Linked DNA regions of Homo sapiens: region 1 is linked to region 2. A link means that fine-mapping ties the variant in region 2 to the expression of a gene that starts in the linked region. Tissue or cell type: cerebellar hemisphere. Region 2 holds a variant in brackets; the other region holds the start of a gene. All regions are shown on one strand. Distances are from middle to middle.

Region 1 (7,801 bases), 480 kb after region 2:
AATAAACTTGACTTTTTTTGTGATTAATAGTAAGATGCAATCTTGAAACACATAAGAATAAAGCAAACGACAACAGAAGAGAAATGATGTAGAAAGGGTCCCATTTGAAATTTACCCATTTGAAAACAGGCTCTGTCTTTTGGCTATCATCATTGTGTGCCTGTCCAGAAATTCATTTCCAAGTTTTATTTCCAAATGCAACCCCAAATTCAAAATGTGAGTGTGTTGGCATGTTCAAAAATTGCTCTGAGATGGACAAAACAACAAATGAGATGCTTTCAGGAGGAATAATAAGTACATTCCAACACTCATTGGGTTTAATTCATACTTCAGATATCGGCCTTCCCCTTCTAATTCTTTTGTATCCTGTTTCTATTAGGAAATGGAAAATAAGGAAATAGGATTATGAAGCCATTTCTAAATATTAACGTGATACCAAAGGAAGTTAGCAAAGATACACACATTTTCAAGGAAAAGGATAGAAAGGGAAATTGGCTTGAGTCCAGTCTGTCAGAAATGGTGACTGATCAGAGTTTAGCTAAATCTAATCAAGCCATCAGGACCTACACTGCATTTACTGACAGGTAGGGGCACTGAGAGAGGGCAGGTCATATTAGAACAATGCTTGGAAGAGGAATAAGCACTACCTGTTGAATAGGAGAATTGGCTTTGTTACCTTAAGATTTCAATAATCTACTGGATTCCTAGAGAATCCATTCATCAAATTAACATAGTGGTGGTAGTATGGAGGGAGGTGGAACAAGAGAGAGAAGGGGGAGGAAGGGAGGGAGGAGAAAGAAAGGAAAGGACATAAGAAATACTGTTATTAAATATTTCATTTCTAGATTAAGCCAGGAAGAGCATTTACCAAAACATGCAAATTATTATTCATGAACTTACATTTTACTCAAAAGATAAAATGGCAAGAATACATAGGAACTAGCAAAGCAAACACAGGAATCCATAGGAGAAACATACAACAATCCATAGGAAAAAAATACATAGCATTCACAGCCAGAGAGTGGACAATACAATTGCTCATATACCAAAGCAGCTTTGCTTTCTTTCTAAGTATTGCTGAAAGAACTTGGTATGACTTTATTTTTTTAAGAGTTTGAAATGTGCTCAATATCTGAAGTCTCAGAAGATAGCTATGATCTTTCAAAAATACAGATGTCATTTGGGAAAAAAGTTCTCCAGTAAGGTTCCATCCTGTCTTTTAGATATTGAAAAAATGGGAAGGACACACAGTAATGCACTTTATTCAATAAATTATTACAAAGCATCACTTTAATAAAGGATGGTAAGATTGAGCTGTATGCCAATGAAAGTATGGCTGTAGCATTAACAATGTCTCCTGAAAGTATGGACAGCACTTTCAGTTAAAAAAGATGACAGAACTCACTCTCCTAAAAAGACAGAGCTTCTTCTAAAAGAAGTACCTCAGGTAGGTACTTCTCTGCTGGTTTTGTGACTAGTAAATGAATAACATTCTCCATTTAAAAAAAAACTAGCATATTAATTAATCATATATGGAGAGTGATAGTCACCTATCTGTCAAGAAGAGTTAAAAAGCATTATTTTGGGTTAAAGCTGATACATGACTTTAACTGAAAAAATGTTTCTCATTGCACTTCGAATTACTGGAGTTGAATTCTTTCAGGGAGACTTAGATATGCCCATTCTTTGCCCCTGACTCTTGATTCACTAGTGATTCTGGAGAAAATGTACACCAATTTGTTAATTCTCTGGCCTCATTCTTTTTCTTGCCCTATCACACATGTTGTTACAACACAGCAAAAACACACATATCCAAGGAAAAGTCTCTTCTACTACCCATACCCAAACCTGCCTTTCCTCCTAAATAGTCCCTAGGGAAGCAAGCCATCGCCATGACAACCATATGATGGGAGTTTGAACAGCACTTGGGGCAGCCTTTGTTGAAAGTTAATACCAGTTGGTGTTTAACAAGAAAAGGAAAACTCAGGCAAGGGGTAATACTCTGTTGTGAGGCACCACTTAGCTGTATGGAACTAACTGTCCCCATCAAATCTTACCTAACCAGAACACATCCTCAGAACAAAATTCTCCAAGTGTAACGTATTCAGGGCTAATTCATTAATTCTCCATTGTAGCCCACTGGACTCAATGCTCTGTGGTCACTAAATCAAAAGAGCATACATACTCAGGAAAAGAGAATTAAGAACTTTGCCTTTTTTAACTTCGAATGGATATAGAACATCAGAGATATTTATTTTTCCCTATTAAGTATTACCACCTTCTATTTACTGGGCAAAAATGCTTGTTTCCTGCACCTTTAAATCTAATTTGTGTTTTCCCCCCTACAAGAAAGATCATGAAGGTGGATTAGTACAGAGTTGTATGGACTTTTTCAGTATCTTTAATGCATTTGCTTCTGGAAAGAGAAGCGCTGCAGACACACGGTGGCAATTCCTGCTCAGGTGTAGTGCCATTCTTTTGTGTGACTCACAGCTAGAGAGAGAGCTGACATTCAATATATGTTTAACAATACTTTCCCACTACTGATTCCACTCAGGAGACTCACATTTTTATGCCTTTTCTAAAAACAAGGACACAAAAAAAGTCACTGTCTGAGGAGGCTCATTCTTTGTTCATCTTCACCTGACTGGCCACCTAACTACACAAAGCTTTTAAACTAATGAGGAGAATCCTTTGTTCTCTCTGGTTCCATTTAAAGGGAAAGTGGGTCGAAGGGCTTCCCCAGGGAGAGAGAAAGAAAAGCCCAGGAGCCAAACACAAGGGAGTAAGAGATTTCACTCCCACTACTATTCCCACCCTCCCAAAGAAGTTAATTAATTCTGTTTTAGGAATGGTTAAAAGGGGTGGGGGAGCACCAGGTAGCCCATTCTCTGAGACCAAAATCTCCTTCTCGAGTGTGGTTCGCACCAGCCTCTTGTCTCTGACACCACGGGGTGTGGGTGGGGGGCGTGGGGGGAGGGCAGGAGTACTGAGAACCTCTCTCCAGCCACGGACCACAGAGCCAGTACTGCATGCATTTAGGCTCCCCCAAAGGTGCGTCCCAGCCCAAGTCCCCAAGTTGGGTATTTAAATCTAAAAAGCACAATTAGCGCCATTCAAAGCTGCAAGTTACAGTACCTTCAGAAGTCTGACAGATGGAAGAAAGGCTGCGTGGCACAGCTTCCGGATGGTCCAGTTTAGGGGTCGAGGAGCATCAGCCTGATTCATGACCCCTTCCAAATTCCACCAGGAAAACAAGAAACTGAAAACCTGAGCAATGCCTAGAAAATAAACGGTCCCCCACGGCTCTGGCATCCCATGGTCATCTCCACACCTGCAAATTCCATTAGGGCAGAGGCTTCCTGGAACTTGGAAGACTAGTCAAGTAGCCTTGCCTGAGCCCCTGAACCTTCTTAAAACAGCCACCTCCCCTCTCTCTGCAGCCGTGCTCATGCATACCAAATGTGGCTGAATGGAGGCACACTGCCTGCTGCTTCGGGGAGGGGATGCACGATTTTGAAGAAGAGGGACAGCCTGCACAAAACAGCCTGTGGTCGGAGTCAAAGCAGCCTGCTCCAGAATGCGCGCTCCCTCTCCCGCTCTCCTCCCAGTAAACGCAGGTCAGGCGTTGGGGGGGAACCGGGGCCATTGCTTTGCTAGCTTGGTTTGGGGGGGAGCCAGGAGGATCGCAAAAGGGAACAAAAATGAAGCCAGAACGGGAAACTTGCACTTTCTTGCACAAAGCATCTTTGAGGGACTGAGAACTGGTACGGGGGGAGGGGTGAGGACACAGGGAGAGAAGGGGTGCCTCCGAATGATGAGATAAATGCTTCCCTTTTGATTTATGTGACATAATAAAGTGAGGCTATCATCAAATACATCTATAGTAAAAGAGATCTGTGTCGTGTTCTGAGGTTTTTATTAACCGTGATTGACAGTCTTCATCCTGATAATCGGTTGCATAGATGACAGACACTGAGACAGAAGCAAACTCAAACACACTGGGTTGTTCCTTTCATACAAAGCAGTTTAAACTCATGGGCATTTGGCTCACCTTTTAGAGATGGCAGTTTTTAAATGGGGGTTATCTCCTGGAAAGCCACTTGATACCGCTTCTCTGCAACACAAGTTTAACCCATAAAGTGCCACATGGGATGCTGTCTATAAAGAATGGATTTTCCTCAAGTGGGGTGTCCACCCCCATCATTTTCTAAGGAGGCTGTATGAAATAGTTGCTGAGTTGGAATGTATAGTCTTTAGGACTCCTGTGGTGAGAGAGAGAATTAAAGGACAGTTTTTCAATTTGAAGGTAGAAATTGGATAATTTCACATAGTAAGTTGGGACGGTGAGATGAGAAGGGAGTTCCTGACACAACCCCCCTTCGGCTCCCATGTACCCCCAGGCATCGGACCTCAGTGGGAGCAGTTGACCTGACAACTCCTATGGGGAGAATCCCCACATCCTTGGAGCATCGCCATCTTATTTATTTTTTCCTCTGTGACCATGCTGATTTTCCATTTCTAATTAACTTGAAGAGATTGGTAAATCCCAGCTCCATGACTATTATGCAGTCAGAGCTGAACTGGGAGTGGTGCAAGCAGATGTGATACACTGCTGTAATTCAGAACCGGGACAACACAGGCCCACCCCAGCATGAAATCAATACCTGACACACTGCGCTACAACACCATTTCACTCACAATGGTCTTGTGTCAAAAATTTAAGAAAGATATTGCAGAAAACTAGTCCACGGGTGGAAGGCAGACCATTGACCTACCTCGTATAGTAAAATTTATGTCTCTGATTATCTACCAAACAATATCACTTTAATAGATCTCATACACAGCTGATTCATTTTCTGTTACTATTCTATTTCCACAAAGGATTGAAGGCAGTATTAAAATAATAACGGCTCACATGTATCACCTAGCACAATGCATTGCATAGGTTTATGCCCATGTCAACCTTATGGAGTAGGTGTTATGGTCATTTTCTTATCTCACAGATTAAGCAAGTGAGGTCCAGAGAAATTAGTAACAAGTCTAACATACTAGTATAACTGGAATCTGGATTGAAACCAGTCTACTAGGCTGTAAAGACAAGCTTTCTCTTGTCTCCTATTTCTTTCAAAAGGGACTTCAGGAATAAAACCACTGCCTCTGTTTTTTGGTAATTTAATCTTACATAAGAGTTAAAGACTTTAAAGAAGAAACGCTCAGCATTTCTTTCAGATTATTACTTTGGTCTGATGTTGATGTATTAGTTAACAGCATGAATTCTGGAATCAAGCTGCATGGTTCAAATTCCAATTTTGAAGCTAGTCTTGGGAGATTTACGTACCTTCTTTGTGTCTTGGAGTCCTTATCCGTACAATGGAGATTAAAATAAACCCTTATGCCTATGGTTGTTGTGAGGACTAAATAAGCTAATATTGGCAAAGCACTTAGAACAGTGCCTGGCATATACTAAATACCTGTACCATGATCCATCTTCTGGGTAGCATGTGCTGATTCTGAGCTGGAAGCCCACTGACAATTTTCATTAAGCATGCATACATATGGTAGTAGGTAATGAAGTCAAGCAAGACAAATTAAAACTGAATGCTTCTTGTGAGTTACTATGAGTTTAATAAATGGGGTAAAGAGGAAGGTGGGAGACTGCAAGGGCAGCGTGGTTTTCCTCATGCAGTGTGGTATTCATCCAGTTGCGAGATGCTGCCTTTAGTGGGGAAGGCTCCAGCCTTTCTAAGCTTTTAAATGAACGCCCTTAAGTGGTTCTGTTGAGGTGGTGAGATCTCTGCTCCATGAAAATGCTGAAAAACTGCAATTGCCTACCCCCTGCCCTGCAGTATTTCAAAATGCTAAGGACCCCACAAAAATGACAGCATCATTCTGAAAACACATGGCCTTTGATCCTATCCCCTTTAATTTTACTGAATAACTTTGGTCAAAGAGAACTGTTAGAAACTATGCAGAGTGAGGAAGTAGGAGGATTCACAGCCCTCTCTAATGGCAATTAGAGGAGAAAAGCACAAAACCTTCAGGGAATTGATTTGGAGATTACACTGCAAAAGAGGTAAAAGATCAAAGAAGGATGACAGTGCATGAGAGGCAGTTTTTCTTCCATCACTGGGGACGCTTTGTGCCAGAATTGTTTGCTATCAAAACATCTAAAGAAGGGTTTTCAAGACCCTTCTCTCTACTTTCAAGAAATTATATTTTCACATAGAAGATGCCTTCCCCAGTTTTAGAGAGAGGTCTAATGAGAAAAAAAAAAAAAAGCAGAGAGGAGCAAGCCCAGCCCCAGATATTAGCATCTCACAAATTCAAAGTGCTTACTTATAAATCTTATGAATGTAGATGTCTACATATCTGCAGAACAAATTCTAGCAGGCTTAAAACTCTGAAATAATCATACTAGCTTTCAGTATCCTAAAAAATAGCAAGCAGGGCATATCAGATTTCTGTATTCCAAAGCCTGCCTTTGAGCCAACTCTAATTCTCTCCCGTGCTACAGAAAAGCCCACTTTCCACTGATTATCTTCCCTTTTTATTTTCTGTGTAAATGATACGAAACCAAAGAATCATGATGAAATTTGAGCTCATTCTCAATACTGACAAGGCGGCCATTGTATAGCCCTTCTGAATTCTTTCTTTTGAAGACCACGTTCCTTCTCTTCAAAAGTCATAGCACCCTCAATATAGTATTGTACCACTTTGCACCCTGTCTTCTTTATATCTTTTGGATGTAAAAGGAGCTGACCCATGAAAACCTAAGAAAACAAAAAGGAAATGACACAGTGACCAGGTAGTACAGAGAACTCAAAAGCCTCCCTCTGAAATGTGTTTTCTGCAAACAACACTAAAATAACAGTGTTGCAATGTAATTTTTCAGAGTTTATTATTACAACATTAAAATTCATAGGTATCTGGACATCAATTGTACATATATTTTCAGGCTCTAATATATGGATGTAGTGCACCTAGTGCAGAAGGATGATATTTAAGCAACCAGGGGAAAAACCAGGAACAAGCCCAGTGGTGAGCCTTTGTAGACACTTTCGTTTGCTTCAGTGTTTTGTAGTCTTAATATTAACGTCTTGCTTGCTTAATGATTGGCCTCTTTTATTAATTTTGTTGTGCTTTGAATTTTCTTTTTTAAATATTTTATTTTACTTTAAGTTCCAGTATACACGTGCAGGATGTGCAGGTTTGTTACACAGGTAAATGTGTGCCATGGTGGTTTTCTGCACTGTCAGCCCATCACCTAGGTATTAAGCCCCACATGCATTAGCTATTTATCCTAATGCTCTCCTCCTGCAACAGGCCCCCGTATGTGTTGTTACCCTCCCTGTGTCCATGTGTTCTCATTGTTTAGCTCCCACTTATAAATGGGAACATAACGGTGTTTGGTTCTCTGTTCCTGTGTCAGTTCGCTGAGGATAATGGTTTCCAGCTCCATCCATGTCACTGCAAAGGACATAATCTCATTCTTTTTATGGCTGCATAGTATTCCATGGTGTATATGTAGCACATTTTCTTTATCTAGTCCATCATTGATGTGCATTTGGGTTGATTCCATGTCTTTGCTATTGTGAGTAGTGCTGCAATGAACATAGGTGTACATTATCTTTAAAATAGAATGATTTATATTTTGGGGGATACATACCACTAATGGGATTGTGGTAGATTAAATACTTAAATGTAAAACCCAAAACTATAACAACCCTAGAAGATAATCTAGACAATACCATTTAGGACATAGGCACAGGCTAAGATTTCATGACGAACATGTCAAAAG
Region 2 (7,801 bases):
CCCCAGTCTTTGGAATAAATTACTCCCTTGATTCTCTAATTGATAGACCATTCAATGCTTGTCTTTATTTATTTATTTTTTTTAATTGAAAACCCATTATTCTTCCTGAAAGTCTCAGTATGCTGAACCAAGAAAAGTCTCTGGAGAAAACAGAGACTAGGAGACATTCTGCTAACCCGTTTCTATTTTTTGCAGATGGTGCCAGCGTGGCACCATCTAACAACTACTACTGGCTGGGGACAGGAAATAAGCTCCATCCTGCTTGCCCTCTGCGTGATGGGACAGAGGCATTGTGAAAAATGAGGGGTAGAATAATCTTAGAGACAGAAGCTTGGGTTCGGTACTTACTGGCTTTCTTAGGAGTTTTGTGACCTTGAATTCACCTTGGCCTCTGCTATGGTTTGAATGTTTGTGTCCTCTCCAGAATTCATGTTGAAAGTTAATTTCCAATGTACTAGTATTAAGAAGTGGGGCCTTTAACGTGTATACCTGTGTAATGAACCTGCACGTTCTGCAAATGTATCCCAGAACTTAAAGTATAATAATAATCACAATAATAATAATAGAAAAGAAGTGGGACCTTTGGGAGGTGATTAGGTCCTGAGGGTTCCTCCTTTGTGAGGGGGATTAAGGCCATTATAAGAGAAGCTTCACACAACATTCAGGCCTTTTGCCCTCTGTCTCTTCTGCCTTGTGAGGACACAGCATTTGTCCCTTCTGGAGAATGGCAAAACAAGGTGCCATTTTGGAAGCAAAAAGCAACCTTCGCCAGACACTGAACTTGCCAGAGCCTTGATTTTAGACTCTCCAGCCTCCAGAACCCAGAGAAATAAATTTCTGTTGTTTATAAATTACTGAGTCTAAGGCATCTTATTATCATAGTACAAATGGACTAAGACAGCCTCAGTTTCCTCATTTGGTAAATGGGGAAAAATTTCTGCTCTTTAAACTTCACTGGATTTTAGTATGAGCTCAGAGCCAATGCACTTAACTCATGTGAATGCTCTCAATAACTTCATAAACAGTAGTTTTACCTATGATTACTCCTTGGTATCCCTAGTGAGTAAATTAACAAATCATTACTAAGCTAAAAAACAAAACAAAACAAAACCAAAATTTTTGAGTGACTCAAAAAAGAGATATTTTACCTTTTCTTCCACTTTATAGCTGAACTATGAAGAATGAACTTCATAGCTCTGAGGATAAAAAATGGCGCAGGTTACTTAATCAGCCTTTTGTGATGCTTAGAGTTAAACCAACCCTCCTTTGCTAATTGCCTCTAACACCCTCTGGGCTTACAGAACAAACTGTGTTCTCATTTCCAGAGCCTTGTGGCTTTGTATAAGAATATGAGAATGATACACTTAGGTTATTACATAACTTTTTGCCTTACATGCTGACAACTGAGCAATTAAAACAAGCGGAATCTTGGTGACTTGGTGTTTGTCATCTATGTAGGTCTAAGGGAGTATTTGTGATGAATGAACCATGCATTTGGACGGGAGAAGGGAAGAGAATCACAGGCATATGGGGGGCAGGAGAAGGTAAAACAAACAGAAAAAAAAGAAAATAAAAAGTGCCTTAGTTTGGCCCTACCGTATTGTACAATTCCTCTAGTCTGGAGATGGTGAGAAAACGGTGCATGCTTACTCCATTCTCTATGAGTAATTTCACAAAATCCACTCTGTCCAGAACTAAGGCATCCAACATGGCTTGCTCCAGAGATCCCACCTGCAAACCAAGTCACTGAGTTAGTCTGCCCCAGGGTCTATCTATGGATGCAGTTCTTTAGTGTTCACTTGAACAGCTTAGAAATGGATGCCTTTGACATCTGGTAAACCTTCAGCACATCTAAGAACATGCTAGCAAGACTGTTCACAGATTCACTTTTGGGACAGCCACACCTCTCCCATGTTTGGGTGCCTGTCTTTGCAAATAGAAGTCAAGCATTTCTAGTTCCAAAAACTATTTCTTCCCTGAATCTCTTGTTCTGGATCCCAAGAAGGTGCAAGGGTTCACAAGGTTTTTCCCCTTGCAATTATCTGATTAAATTTCTCAACACCAGCGAAGTGTCAAAGGGGGCACTTTTGCTGTCTTCATTTTTGTTATCCTTAGGCTCTGAGGGAGACCCCAGGCCAACTTGAGAAGAGGGACCCAAGTCAACAGACCAAAGGCCCTAAATCAATGCTGGGTCTCTGTAGAAGCAAGACCACAAAGATGTCACTTAACTGAAAACAAAACAAAAACATAACAAAACAGAACAACCAGCCTACTTTCTGGATTTGCCAATAGCTTAGATTTTTATTTAATCCATTTCACAAAAATGTTGCAGGGTCTAGACTCTGACAAATCTTTCCATGTTAGCAATCCACCAGCACTGAATGAAGACAGGGGCTCCATCCCAGGCAGAAACTCTCTAGGGGAAAGGAAGGAGTAAGATAAGGCTTGCCGGTGAGTGCTGTGATTCCAGGCACAGAAACCGAGTTTCAGGCTGCTGGGCTGCCTCCTGTGGATGCATACATATCCCACCTGATGGCCAATCTCTCAAATTTTTATTTTTGGTAGAGTCAATTGAGGGAAGCAAACCAAGAACAGTTATATAAAGCATTGGTTTCCTCATGTTGTTCTTTGCAAATAGGGAGGACCTGTGCTCAGTCACCAGGACCAGATGGCGCCTGCAGAGGGAAGCCTGCTAATTCTGCATCCTGAGGTGTGACCCTTCCCTTTGCCCCATCAAAGACAATCAGAAGCAAATTAATAATTCTACCCCTTCCTTAATTTTAGTTAATACAGATTTGTCTTATATTTTTTCAGATGTATTCAAATAAATGGCATCATTTGCAGCTGAAAATTGCTATTAAAGACAACTCATAGAGATGGAAATATTTGGAGTTGTGTTCAGTTGAAATTTCCACTAGATGGCGGTGCTTTCCTAAATATGAGAAAGGGAGCTCAGGATACAGACTTTGCTACCAAGGAACACATTCCATCTTAAAGAAAAAGCAATCGTTTTCTGAGCTGACCTCAGAGGCTCCTTAAACAAATACCCTTG[G/C]CCAACCAAAGTGGGCTTTTCATGGGAGACGATATATACTCTACCGGCCACTGTTGCCCGTAAATAAAGATCTGGCTGCGAGCGATGTCGACTCTGTTCCAGGCTAAAGCTAAGCTCAGTTGGTCTGGGGCCGAGGCATTGGCTCCTGTGTGAGGACAAGTGGGAGAAAAGAGTGGAAGAGAGAAAACGACGATCAGTTATTACACCAAGAGCGCCTGCTCCATCCCTCTGCCATTAATGCCCCTATTCCCAAAGAGCCTGCTTGGCTATACAGCAGGTTTCTCAAACTTGGTATTATTAACATTTTGGGTAACTCTTTGTCACAGGGCTCTCCTGTATATTGTAGATTATTATTATTATTACATTTTTAAAAACTTTTTAAAAAGAAGGTCTTTGAAACTCCATGCTTTTTTGATATATAATAATTGTACATGTTTATGGTATGCATGTGATATTTTGATGCATGCATACAAGTTCATTGTAGATTATTAATAGCACGCCTTGACTGAACCCAGTAGATGTCAATAGCATTTTCCCACCCCCATCCTTCCAGACATGATGCTCAAAAATGTCTCCAGACATTGCCAAATGCCCCCATGTGTGAAGGGAGGCAAAACTGGCCTGGTGAGCAGCATTGCTCTACCGTCTGGCTAGGCAAAGTGTGGTTCACAGAGCAGCTGCAGCAGTGCCACCCTGGTGCTTCTTTGAAATGCAAGTCTCAGACCCTGTCCCCGACCCACTAAACCAGAATCCGTATTTTCACAAGATCCCAGATGACTTGTGCACACACTCAAGTTTGAGAAACTCTGCTCTACCACACATTTTGCTTCTGCTGGCCAATCACTGGTTTCAAGGCATCACTTGAATAGTATTTTGCATGGGGAGGGTGCTCTCATCAACTAGCGTACCAACTTGCCACTTTTCTGAAAAAGAGTTAGGAAGGTCTTTTAACAGAGAGGCAAACCAGCGGCTTAGGTTTACTTTGATTTGTGGGTAGAAACCATTGGAACTATTTCCCAGGTTCTTATTTTTCTCCAGATTCTGTCTCTAGAGCTGTGCGGTTCACAGGTGGCTAAGTTTAAATTAATCAAAATTAAATAAAATTAAAGTTATAATTCCTCAGTCAGGCTAGCCACATTTTAAGAACTTAATAGTTCCATGTGGCTAGTGACTACTGAACTGGAAAGCACAGATACAGAACATTTCTATCATCACAGTAAGTGCTATTGGCCCAGAGCTCATCTAGGTGAATGCATCCTGTCCATAGAGGCAGCCTGCCAAGCAGCTGGAGGGGAAGCTGGAAATGGAGGCAGTGCAGTAACGAAAGCAACATTAGGCTCCAGGCAGGGGGCCCAAGTGAGAGTCCCTGTGGCTCCTCTCAGCCACTGTTGATTATTTGTGAAATGGAGGCAATAAATATCCAGTTTACATGGCTGGGGTGTGAGACTGAAATGAGATTGTATAAGTGATTTCTGTTTAAACAGGTTTTTCACAGTTCACCAACACCCTTAGTGCACTGAGGAAGAGACACCCCTAAATAATTGCCAAGCTTCATGCTGCTGGATATCTCACGATCGGGGAGGAGGATAAAGAGACAACCTTCCTCAGCTCAGAGTTTTTAAACATCAAACATGTGCTGGGCAAAGTATTAGGCACTTCCATATGTCATATGTAACATCCCAGTTAATCTGGGGACTGGGTCTTATTGTCTCCTGTCTCATTGAAACATATGAGACTACTGAGATCCAGGGAGGTGGAACAGCCAAAGATAAAACAGCTACTAACAGGGTAAATGGAAGAAGTATTCAGCAAACTAGAGGTGAGAGTCAGATCCAGAGAATTCCTCTTCATCATTGCTGCTTCTGATGTTTAGGAAAGAAATATAGCAAATGTGTATGCTGTTCATTCCTCTGGGTTCGCCAGCAGTCAAGGCCAGAAACAATGAGGAGGTGGGGCAGGGTTCCTGGTCGTTAACTTACATCAGTGATTCCAAAACTTTGCTGCACATTAGAATCACCTGGGGAGCTTCGCTCAGGGTGCATCCCATACCAATTAAATCATGTTGCTTGGGATGGGATCCAGGCGCGGATATTTTTAAAGCTCTCCATGTGCTTCCAATGTGCAGCCAATGTCCAGAGGCTGGGAATTACTGCGCTGTGTGCCTCCTTTCCTGCTTACCCTCGCCTCTTCCCTCTGGGCTCTGAGATACTGACGTTATAAATTAGGCAAAAAATGTTTGCTAAGTGAACACTTCTCAAATTTTAGCATGCATAAGTACAATTCGGAGAACTTTTTAAGACACAGGTTCTTGGGTCCCAGCTGCAGACCTTGTGATTCAGTAGCTCTTGGGTGGAGCCTAAGGTTCTGTGTTTCTAACCAGCTCCCAGGTGAGGCCGCTGCTGCTGATCTGGGGCCATGATTTGAGTAACAAGGCCCTCAAGAGCTGTGGTGCTCTGTTCCCTTCGTAGGTTGAAGAGCATTTCTGATTCTGGTGTCCACACATTGATGGGCTTATTATCGACCACATACTTGGAGTAAATTTATTAGTGTTTACAATGATGAATATCATTTCAGCTCTCACGTGGAATTTTCCATTAAAAATTATCTCCTCAGGTAACAACAGGGACTGCACACTCATACCAGGGTAACTGGCATACACAAGTGATAAGTAGAAATGTGTCAAAATGTTCTGTCATCAATTTGGAGAGGAAAAGAAGTGAAGGCTCATTGCGATTGCATTTGGAAAGGTAGCACTTTACATGTTTCTTTGCTTCTTTAGCTGGTCTACTGGTTGGTGCTGACTTGCTGGAATAGTTTAATCATTCCCTTTGCCATTTGTATGTTGCAAATTAGTATGTCACCCAAGTCAATAATAGCAGCACGAGCCTGAACAGGAACACATAGCAGGAAGCAGTTATTGAGGTCAAGGTGAGCTACAGGCCTGAATGTAATTAGGCAAGTGTCAAATGAAAGCATGAAACCAATGAGTCTTGACTTTCAAAAATTGAAAATACATCACTCAAGAATGGCCGTGGGTGACAGTTTGGATCAGTGGTTCTCGGCTAAGGTGACCAGCCATCCAGGCTTGCCCAGTGTAGTCACAGTGTTAGCATTTAAATTCCTGCACTCTGGGAGATGTGTCAATCCTGAATAAACCTAGTGGCTGGTCACCCTATTCTCGACTATGGCTGTGCACTTGGAATTGCCTAAAGAGCTTTAAAATATACTCATGCCTGGGGCACAGCCCCACAGATTCTAGTTTAATTGGTCCTGGGCATTGCGGTTTTTAAAAGTTCCCCAATGATTCTAATGTGAGGATAAAATTAAGAACTTCTAGTGTAGATAGCATATGTTCATTCATTCACTCATTCATCTGTTCATTTACTTATGCGTTCAAAGATACTGATTTCATGCCTCCTTATATGGGAGGCAGTATGCCAGCATGAGGACCGAGACATATAAAGCAGAATACTTTGTCTTGAGAGCTTACAGTCTAGAGGAGAAGAGAAGTCTGTAATTAAATACATTATTTCATGCAGTAATTCATTTATCTCATCAACAGATATTTATTGAATACTCTCTCTGCTGGGAACTGATTTGTCATTGAACGTCCAATGACAAACAAGGTAGCTAAGGTCAACCTCTTCACAGAGCTTACATCCTACTGGTGGTGGGGAAGTACTCGGAAGTAAGCAAATAAACTCATGAACAGCATACTTTCAGATTGTAGAAGTGCTGTGAAGGAGCAGTGCCACTCCTAGGGTATGTGGGACCTATGCTTATACAAACACATCAATGTAGCAGAACCATTCTGGCTACCCGACCTTGCATGTCCCCACAATAGAAGTATTTTGCTAATTGGCTGGAGCAATCTGCTGGCCCGGCTGCCCTCCTGAAATGAGGGCTGAATATGGAGTCATTGGACAACCAACGACAAAAACCACATGATTATCTCAATAGATGCAGAAAAGGCCTTCAATAAAATTCAACACCCCTTCATGCTAAAAACTCTCAATAAACTAGGTATTGATGGAATGTATCTCAAAATAATAAAAACCATTTATGACAAACCCACAGCCAATATCATACTGAATGGGCAAAAGCTGGAAGTATTCCCTTTGAAAACTGGCACAAGACAAGTATGCCCTCTCTCACCACTCCTATTCAACATAGTACTGGAAGTTCTGGCCAGGGAAATCAGGCAAGAGAAAGAAATAAGGGGTATTCAAACAGGAAGAGAGGAAGTCAAATTGTTTCTGTTTGCAGATGACATGATTTTATATTCAGAAAGCCCCATTGTTTCAGCCTCAAATCTCCTTTAGCTGATAAGAAACTTTGGCAAAGTCTCAGGATACAAAATCAATGTGCAAAAACCACAAGTATTTCTATACCTCAATAATAGACAAACAGAAAGCCAAATCATGAGTGAACTCCCATTCACAATTGCTACAAAGAGAATAAAATACTTAGGAATACAACTTACAAGGGATGTGAAGGACCTGTTCAAGGAGAACTATAAACCACTGCTCAAGGAAATAAGAGAGGACACAGACAAATGGAAAAACATTCCTTGCTCCTGGATAGGAAGAATCAATATTGTGAAAATGGCCATACTGCCCAAAGTAATTTACAGATTCAATGCTATTACCATCAAGCTACCATTGACTTTCTTCACAGAATTAGAAAAAACTATCTTAAGTTTCTTATGGAACCAAAAAAGAGCCTGCATAACCAAGACAATCCTAAGCA

The links. PIP is the estimated chance that this variant, and not a neighbour inherited with it, causes the effect.
Region 1: TRPM3 starts here. The variant in region 2 is fine-mapped to the expression of TRPM3 in cerebellar hemisphere (GTEx, PIP above 0.99). The same link has a PIP of 0.9 or more in cerebellum.

The regions. Positions count from the first base shown.
Region 1 is chr9:71,118,040-71,125,840 of GRCh38, forward strand. TRPM3 (transient receptor potential cation channel subfamily M member 3) reads right to left here and starts at 3,582. Exons shown (of 26, transcript NM_001366145.2): 1 at 3,139-3,582. The coding sequence starts at 3,315. RefSeq lists an enhancer at 2,390-3,227.
Region 2 is chr9:70,637,464-70,645,264 of GRCh38, forward strand. It overlaps TRPM3 (transient receptor potential cation channel subfamily M member 3), which reads right to left. Exons shown (of 26, transcript NM_001366145.2): 10 at 3,097-3,197; 11 at 1,597-1,731. Among named protein-coding and RNA genes, the nearest start is that of MIR204, 170 kb to the right of the region's middle. The variant G/C (reference allele first, on the strand shown) is at 3,053.